3 separate regions of the Homo sapiens genome follow, and regions 2 and 3 are each reported to be linked to region 1. The links are microRNA targets in miRTarBase. Many come from high-throughput screens and were not tested one by one. Region 1 holds a microRNA gene; each other region holds the end of a gene's coding sequence.

What was found. Region 1 holds the annotated microRNA hsa-miR-3138 (UGUGGACAGUGAGGUAGAGGGAGU, at 2,159-2,182, shown strand). A microRNA usually pairs through its seed, bases 2 to 8, with sites in the 3' UTR of a target mRNA and lowers its output. Matches are read on the target gene's strand: a 7mer-m8 pairs with bases 2 to 8, a 7mer-A1 pairs with bases 2 to 7 and ends in A, and an 8mer does both.
Region 2: miRTarBase lists TRMT6 as a target of hsa-miR-3138. Seed matches in the 3' UTR shown: 7mer-m8 at 720-726.
Region 3: miRTarBase lists LUZP1 as a target of hsa-miR-3138. Seed matches in the 3' UTR shown: 7mer-m8 at 2,590-2,596 and 8mer at 768-775.

What each region holds. Positions count from the first base shown.
Region 1 is chr4:10,077,673-10,080,803 of GRCh38, reverse strand. MIR3138 (microRNA 3138) reads left to right here and starts at 2,112; the gene lies at 2,112-2,193. It overlaps WDR1 (WD repeat domain 1), which reads left to right. Exons shown (of 15, transcript NM_017491.5): 12 at 1,803-1,913; 13 at 2,878-3,051.
Region 2 is chr20:5,935,788-5,938,787 of GRCh38, reverse strand. It overlaps TRMT6 (tRNA methyltransferase 6 non-catalytic subunit), which reads left to right. Exons shown (of 11, transcript NM_015939.5): 11 at 62-1,560. The coding sequence ends at 253. Among named protein-coding and RNA genes, the nearest start is that of TRMT6, 13 kb to the left of the region's middle.
Region 3 is chr1:23,086,052-23,089,051 of GRCh38, forward strand. It overlaps LUZP1 (leucine zipper protein 1), which reads right to left. Exons shown (of 4, transcript NM_001395462.2): 4 at 1-3,000. The coding sequence ends at 2,844. Among named protein-coding and RNA genes, the nearest start is that of MIR3115, 43 kb to the left of the region's middle.

The DNA.
Region 1 (3,131 bases):
ACCTGACTTCCCGGCCTGGCTTCTAACCCCAGACAGTGGGGCCACCTGCACACCTTTGGAATATCTGGACCAAAGCCACCTGAGACCCAAGCCTGACCCACTTTATACAGAATTCTGCCCTGCAGAAGATATTATCTGTTGGCGGGCCTAGGCTTGCTGGCATGTAGACCGGGGAAGTCAAGGGGCACCTGTTGGCACGAGTGGCGAGCCCTGCTAAAGAAAGCTGCTTTCAGCACCCTCTGGCCCTCCTTTGCCTTGTGAACTTAATTGCGTTAGGGACAGTGGATTTCTCTGTGTCCTAGATAATAAGAAATCCCTGCCAAGTAATTATTGCAAACAGCCTGGACAGCCAGTGGGGGTGGGGAGGTGCAAAGGGAATCCACACATGGAGCGCCTCGGGGCCTGGGGGAAACGCTACAAAGCGGAGTTCTAGAAGGCTGGCAGGTGGCCTATCTCTGCACAGCAGGGCTCTTCCCAGCCAAGGGGTCTGCACATGGGGCTTTGTGGGTGAGGGGATGAGGCCTAGGGCAGCGTGCCCTGTGTCTCCAGACCCAGGTTTCCTCATCTGTAAAGTTGTGGTCATCATAGGCCACCCTTTCCCCTGAGGCTGAGAGGATGTTCAGACTGGCCCAGCTGGCGCCTGCTGCCCAGGAGGTTAGAAAGGACCCCGGTAGGGTTGTGGTGTGCAGGGGACAGGCTCCAGGTCTCTGCACCTCCTCATGTGGCATTTCTCTGTGATCTGCTGTTACCTGATCCTCCCAGGGCATCTGGAACCCCTGCTCTGGGTCAGAATTTTCTGCAGAGCTCCCTGTCACCAGTCAAAGAGTTAGGAGGGTGCTAGGAGGGGCCTGGGATTTTAGATCAGGAAACAACCAGGTTCAAGTCTCATGTCGGACGAAGCTTCAGGCAAATGCTTAGGCCCTCATTCTTCACCTGTGAGTAGGTAAGGCCACCTCCAGAGCCGGGCAGATGACAGAGGTGCCTCTTCAGTAGTAGGTTTTAGTCAGGGTGCTGCTACCATTCATCGCGATCCACCCACAATCCACGCAGAAACAGAAGCCCAGACGGTAGGGGCAGAGGCTGCCTTCCCTCATGACAGCTGGTGGCTTGGGTAGGGGCACACTGGGATAAAGGCAAAACTCAGAGATGAAGGCCACTGTCTGGGAGCAGTTGAGTAAGTTAGAACCGGAAGAATTGACAAGGAAGGGAGATGGAAGGAAGGCCCCCGCTGCAGAGCCTCTGCTGCATGTACCAGAGGCAAAGGCCCAGTGCGGGTGCCGAGGCTTGGATTCTGGGCGAGTCCCGGCTCAGCCTGTGGGAACTGGAGCCTTGGGCGTGCAGCATAAGCACCGTACCCCATTTTCTTCTCTGAAACGGGGAACCCGATCCCTGCCTTGTGGGGCTGGAACACTCACAGCAGAGCGCTGGCACGTGCCTAGGGGCTGTCGCTGTTTTTGTTTACTGTTGTTAGTACCTTTCTTACCCTGAACGTTGATTCCCATCGAGGCCAAGTGACTTTCCAAGAGGTGGTGCTGTGGTGACTGCCTTGGAAGTAATGTAGTGATGACAGTAATGGTCACAGTTAGTTGTGTTTCCTGCCCCACCTGACTGGCTAGAGCAACTGTCAAACGGGACATGAGTCCAGGTGGTGTGGCTCAGAGCCCCAGGTGGCCCTGCAAAGAGGTTGGGTATGGAGCCAAACCCAGCTCCAGTGAGCCCCGACAGGGACGCGCCCCTCCTACCACTGAGGGTTTTGTCCCGAAGGGCTGGACCGCCTGACCAGCTGCCTGTGTGTGCCACAGATTGTCCTGCTGAAGGATCAGAGGAAGTGCTTCAGCATCGACAACCCCGGCTACGAGCCCGAAGTTGTGGCAGTGCACCCCGGCGGGGACACGGTGGCAATTGGGGGTGTGGTAAGTCGCTTTCCTCTCCCCCGTGCTCTCTGTCCTTGGTATCTGGGTGATTTGGGGACAGTGTGAGCTGTGTGAGTACCGGGGCTGTCTCAGGGAAGGCGAGGGGTCAGGGGAAGGATGGGGGCAGTCGGGGCGTGGGACCTGCTCTGGGGCCCAGCCACGCCATCTCCTGCCACCCAGGGCTGGAGCCTTCCCCTCCCCTCCTCGGCACTTCCCCCACCTCACTGCCCGGGTGCCCACAAGACTGTGGACAGTGAGGTAGAGGGAGTGCCGAGGAGGGCACAGCTGTGCCTCAGAGCCAGCCCCATGAGTGGCGGCAGGAGGGGAGCGCAAGAGGGTAGCAGGTCAGGAAATCAAGGAATGGCATCCCCTGGGGCTGGGCTCGGCTCACAGGTTGAAGGAAGAGTGACAGAAGTTTCCCAGCATCTTCAAGGTGCGGTACTAACCAGACATTTTACAGTTTCCCTTGAGTTCTGCCTCGGCATAATTCTCATGCCCTTGAATTTGTGTGTGTGGTCTGGTCACAGTGTGCCTGGCCAAGTCCTGAGTGCTCTGTAGAAGAGCTCATTTCCCCTCTCCAGCCCAGGAGGGCAGCCCTCTGATAACCCAGTCCTGCAGCAGGCGTGGCAGTGCCCTCCATGCTAGGGGCTGGGTGGGTCTATGTGCTGCCAGGTCCTTCAGGTGCCGGATGTGACCAGGGCATGGAGTGGCTTCCTCCACCAGCCAGCTTGAGGGCCTCATGAGACCAGCGGTGCCCCGAGGTACCAACAGCTGTTTTCATAGAGCTGCGTAGGTTTCAGGCCCATCCACGGGAAGAGCCATGCCCAGCTCCTGGCATGGGCCCAGCAGAGCAGCAGTCAGTGGGAACGGCACAGTTTCTTAAGCCCTCGACCCCCCCTTCACAAAGGATGGGTGTGGTGTGTGTGTTCAGGGGTGGCTCACTTCCTCTCTGTCCCTGCCGTAGGACGGCAACGTCCGCCTGTATTCCATCCTGGGCACCACGCTGAAGGATGAGGGCAAGCTCCTAGAGGCCAAGGGCCCCGTGACCGACGTGGCCTACTCCCACGACGGCGCCTTCCTCGCGGTGTGCGACGCCAGCAAGGTGGTCACAGTGTTCAGCGTTGCTGACGGCTACTCGGTGAGTGGCGGCGGGCTCCTCCTCTGTCCCCGTGCTGGGCGGTGCAGGTGGCAGTGGGAGGTTATCTGTGACTTGGTGAC
Region 2 (3,000 bases), not on the chromosome of region 1:
TGTTGTTAGCATGGACTTTATTGTCTTAGGAAAGCATGAATGTCTTTTCTGTCTTGATTAGGTTTTGCCAGATCGAAGTCATCCTAAACTGCTGATGAGTGGAGGTGGGGGTTATCTTCTCTCCGGCTTCACCGTTGCCATGGACAACCTTAAAGCAGACACCAGCCTCAAATCTAATGCAAGCACTTTAGAATCACACGAGACTGAGGAGCCTGCAGCTAAAAAACGAAAATGCCCAGAGTCTGACTCTTAACCCTTTTGAGAATTGCTCTGAATTTTGTTCTCAGGCATTATACAGTTAGTAATTAAACTTTAAATGCCATTACTACTTGTTTTTTCATATCCCAAGAATAAGAACATGTCTATGTACCCGTTTCTAGGAAGGAGGAGTATATGCCTTTTGTCTATTTCTGACACAGATGCATTTGGTCTGTCAAAACTGCAACCATGGGGTATGTAGTATGACCAACTGCATTTAACAAAACTCCTCTAAGTACTTCTAAATATTCTGTGCAAATATCTTGAGAACTTCAACATCCTAAAAATGTGTTTCTACAAGACTTTATATTTTAAGCTAAGTGGAATAATACAACGTAACTAAAACATGGCGGGTACCGAAAGGAGGGCAATTCATGGAAGAAATTTCCTCTGTTCATTCCGTTCTCTTCAACCTAAGCAATATGGATGTGTGAGTGTGTGATTTATTATGGTACCAAAAATGTCCACCTTCTTTCCTGCAGCGGAATAAGCTTTTTTGAAATGCTGAGGTTTTATTTTAATAGTTGACAACCTGGGAAAGTTCTGAGTATTTATTTTACTGCTCTTTTTTGTGCATAGAAAGGTTTAGTAGGGTACTTTTTTGCATTAATTTGCCAATACTCTTATTCTTTGTTCTAAATAAAGTGACTAGAATTTTTGTGTACTATTCAATTAAAGGAAACAAATGTCTTTTCCCCCTCTATGGTCTTATGGATACACATTTGCACACACACACATATGTATATAGATGTTGGTATATATACACACATATATTTATATATACACAGATATATACATACACATGCAAGTGGAGACATAGATTGTACCACCTGTATGAATATGTATGTACACATGGGGACAGAAAGAGTGTGCAGTCTATTTGAACTGTATCAAAGTCTTGTGCAGGACTTAGACCAATTCTCATTGTATTAGTGTCATTCCTTGTCAAATGTCCCTAAAGTGCCTTTCTTGATTATTAATGCTGAAGAACTCTGTCATGATTAGATGGTTACCCTTTCTAAGCTCTGAAAAACTCTAATCATTTGATCATGTGCTGTAGCAAAGAAAGTGTTTAGAATCAGCCAAGGCTCTTGTTCATTTGAGAGATTGAGTCTTGCTCACTGGAACATGGTCATCGTTTGCGTTGCTCCTGTCATAGAATAGGCCTGTATCATACAGCAAGGAACATCTCAGAAAAAAAATTTTTTTTCCAAATAGCATGTGCTATGCCAATGTGATTACTAAGTACAATTTTGAGTCCTTTATCCTAATTGCTATTAAAGAATAAAAATGTCGGCCGGGCACAGTGGCTCATGCCTGTAATCCCAACACTTTGGGAGGCCCAGGCAGGCGGATCACCTGAGGTCAGGGGTTCAAGATCAGCCTGACAAACATGTTGAAACCCCATCTCTACTAAAAATTAGAAAATTAGCCATGCGTGGTGGCTAACGCCTGTAATCCCAGCTACTTGGGAGGCTGAGGCAGGAGAACCGCTTGAACCCGGGAGGCAGAGGTTGCAGTGAGCCGACATCACGCCATTGCACTCCAGCCTGGGCGACGAGTGAAACTGTCTCAAAAAATAAATAAAAATGAAAATGTTTCCTACTGTGATTCTTCTAACAGTGATGCAGTCAGTGATGTCCTGTGGGCTTTCGGCCGATTGTGACGTGGTCTGTCTATTGTAGAGGACATGCCTGGATTGGCACCTCACGGAGTGTGTTGCAAGCTGGTGTCACACACACATGTAGCTAATCAAGTTTGGACAAGGAGAACAGAAAACTGCATAGATTAGAATCAGTAGTGGCTGGTCTCCTGGTTACTGGTTTGCAAGTTGCATTCCGTTCCCTAAATCTTTTCTCTTGAGTTTCTTGAGCAAGGGGTCTGGGGTCTGAGCTACCAAGGCCCTGCATGCTCATGTTACCTTGTGAACTCATCTTACCAATGCCAACAGCATAAGTTAATCTGTATTTTTTTTTTTTCTCATTCATATAGTTTACTTAATCTGCGTACAGATGATTGAATTCTGTGGTTTGCAAACTTAGCATTGGAAAACTTAGATTCCCCTGGAGGGCTTGGTAAGCAGAGGCCACTGGGCCCTCCACCCCACAGAATAAGATTTCAGTACTTCTGGAGTGGTACAGAGCATTTGCATTTCAAGTAGTTTCCAGGTGATATTGGTGCTGTTGGTCCAGGAACCGCCCACTGGGAACCACGACTGTGTGCATGCACATCATGGGTACAGCTAAATACAGGATGTTTTTGTCTTGTGTTTAAAATGGACATTCACCTTTGGAGCAGATGAACGGATAATTTTATGATTTTTGGACATCCAGCCACCAGAGGAGTTATGTAGAATAGCACTTTAATGAATGGCAATCAAGAAGTCAAAGACAAAAATCATTCTGTAACATCCATCCTGTTCCTCCACTGGACTAGGGTACTTGGCAATATAGCATGGCACCCATTACAGGGCATTTTTTAGCTTAAAGGTACACTCAAATTGTATGAAGCAAATACTGAGCAATCATTCATGCATTGGTTGTATATTGAAAAGCCAAAAATAGCCTTTTCTCAATACATAGTGAAGCTTTGGGAAAAAAAAATGGAGTGTTTGCATGTTGTTTTAAAGTGTTGGTTGTAAGTATTGCAAGAACAGTACTAAATACTAAAACGCATGTCCTAAAAATCCATGATCAGGATTCACTTTATCCTGATTTTGTAATGCCTTTAAGTGCAGTGCTA
Region 3 (3,000 bases), not on the chromosome of region 1:
CTATTTGGCTTGATTAAACAACTATTCAACTACCAGGTCTCCCCTCTACTTGGAGGCTTCCTCCAGGACCCCTGATGATGAGGCCTGGGTCCAAACAGTCACACCTCAGTTGCTTTTCAGAAACATGCCTCCCAACTTTGGGATTTGAGAGCCAGCCTTGCCAGCCATTTGAAGCCCAGAGAAACAGCCTCCAGCCTTTACTTGCTATTACAATGTTATTTTCTGCAATGCTGAGGACACTTAAAAATAAAATCTATCTAGAAAGTGTGCAGATTAAAGAAACAAAATATCCTGAAATAACTGTTACAAGCAAATCCTATTGCACTCAGATTTCAAGATGGCAGCCCCAGCAAAAGGGCATCACAGCTGTCCCTCTTCAACAGGACATTTTGAGTAGCAGCAGATGTTGGTGCTGCTGAAATGTGGAAAGATCCAGACTTTGGCACCAGGAGCTATAGCACCAGAATCCAGGGCTCCAACACTCAAAGACAAGAATTATTGGCGAGATCTTTTTAGGCATGGCTTGGCGCCCTTCTGTTTCCATCAGCAGAGAAGAGCCACAGACTTAGTTTCCTAATACCTTTAGTTGACCACCACAGAGGTTGATTTTCTTTGAACTCTCAAGGTTGCCAACCAGTGAAGGAGAATGGCAGGGAGGCTGCAAGTGAAGGATGGCAGCCTTGAGTGAGCTAGTTTCTGGCCAGTAAGCCAGGAGAAGCAGCAGTAAGAGATCTTGGAAATAGCATCTTGAGCATCAGAGGTGGGGATGTGGACAGGAAAGGCAGGCCACATGACAATGCCTTTAGATTGGCAAAACTCTGGGAAGCAGAAGTATGAGCAATAGATTCCTGTCCCTGAAAGTAAGGTAGGTGCTCCCCAAGCCTCCTCACTGCCAAATCTGATACAGACAAGGTCAGGATGAACACTGGTTCCCATGCTGAGTGAAGGCAGAGAAGACAAATTCCTCTGGAGGAAGTCTTGAGTCTTCCTCTTGCCAGGAAATTCATAGGAGATGCACAGGAACAGGAGATACACAGACTTGGGTACTTTCCATAATACCTAGACTCCTAGAACGCCAGGAGATACTGTGTGGCACTGGGCAAGGCTGATGCCACAAAGAGCCTCAGAGACCATCCCATCTAATCCCTTCACACTTTGCAGATTGGGAAACAGGCCCACGGAGCTTCTCTGAGCTCATCCCCATGAGATTAAAACATACAGAAACTAAAAAACAAGGCCCAGAAAAACAATTGAGGGCAGGAGGGAAGAACCCACACGGATGATACCTTCCACAAGCAAAAATCATCCCATACTATTATAGATGGTGAAAACAGGAGAACCTTAGAATACCAGATTTGGTGCCCTTAGAGATCATCCATTTCAAAGAACTCATTTTACAGACAGGGAAACTGAGGCTCCAAGAAGACAATGACTCACCCAAGGTCACACAGCAAGGAAGTAAAGCCATGGGGAAAAAAATCCAGCTTACCAGACTGGTAGTTTAATGTTCTCTCATTCTGAGGGCAATAGTGTCTACTTCATAAAGGTAGCCTTTGAAAGAGGATCCCTTCTTTGAATTGACAGAATGCTAAAGAAAAAGCACTGCCAAGAATATACAATTCTTTTCAACTTCCCCATGTGACTGGTATAAGGAACCTAACCAATTTATTTACGTGGCTTTCTGAAAAGTTTGCTGCATTTTGAACTATATAAAGCTGAGGCCCTCAATGCGTATGTACGTATCACCTTTCCTCCAGCGAAGTCATCATGATAGTCGACTTGCAGAAATCCGGGGCCCACTTCTGTAGGAATGCATCAGCTTGGTAAAGTGCGATGCCTCCTCCATGGGGGATGGAGAAGGAGGAACAGGAGGGAGTAGTCTCACAGTCCATGCCTCTCATGGAGCTATTGCTTGTGGAGTGACTAAAGGGGTCTGCTTTCCCTCTTGCTGGGCACTTCCTAGAAGGCAGAGGATGCTGGGTCAGGCCCAGCTTAGCCTAGGGATTTTCCCAAGGTGGAAACAATGAAGTCAGCTTGAAGTCTCCAGCCACTGGAGAGAAAGCAGGCGATGCCAGCAGCATTACTGGTGCTCAGGAAAGGAGATGCATGAGGCTTGCACCTCCAGGTGCCTTTGGAAGGTGAGCAGAGAGAGCTGGGGTTGGGGAGGGATGATGTCATTCCAATGGGTATCCGCATGAGTATCTGCATGCTCTGCTTCCAGGAGACTGGTAAGCCAGGAGCCAGGTCAAACTTCAACCTAAAGGGTAGTCTCATAATCCTTTAGAGGCAGCACAGACCCCTTTCTGCTTTAAGTCTGAAGAAAAGAACTCCAAGGGGAAAGAAATGAAAGCCCCCTAGATAGAGCTGATGGCTGGTAAATCTTATGGGGTACTTGAGCCCATTGGGCAAATGAGGAGTGAAGTGGATATAGTGAGGAGACTGAGAAACCAGAACATTAACCACACAGACAGAGGCTGCCCTAGGATCCAGAAACAACCCACCAAGGAGCCGAGAAGAATTTTTGACTCCTGCTGTGTGCTGGGGACTTTATCTTCCCTTGTTTGGGGGCCAGAATGGTCCAACTACTTGGTGGACAGGGACAAGGAGAGAGAGAGGACTCGTGCATTGGGGAAGGTTGGGCCTGGGTGACTGTCCAGCTTGTAGTCTCTGATTCCCTCTGGCCAAATGGCAAAAATTACCTGAGCCACAGCCCGGCTCTACCACAGTTTTCCAGCCAAGGCTTGTGTCTTGCCTGGTTAACTGGCCTTGGATCCTTCGTGGGGCAGGACGGTGGAAGAGCTGAGAAGCAGGAGCAGAGGGCAGACAACAGACACCCAGCGGGCTCAGTTCTCCTCAGCACAGGGCCTGGTTGGCCGTAATCGTTCCTCGGCCCGTACTCGCCCAGACTCTGGCAGCCCCTGCTTCCCAGGCAGTTCAGACGGATCCAGGGAGTTGTGCAGTTGCCTGTAGACACTGAGTGTACAGTCTTCCCCTTCTTCC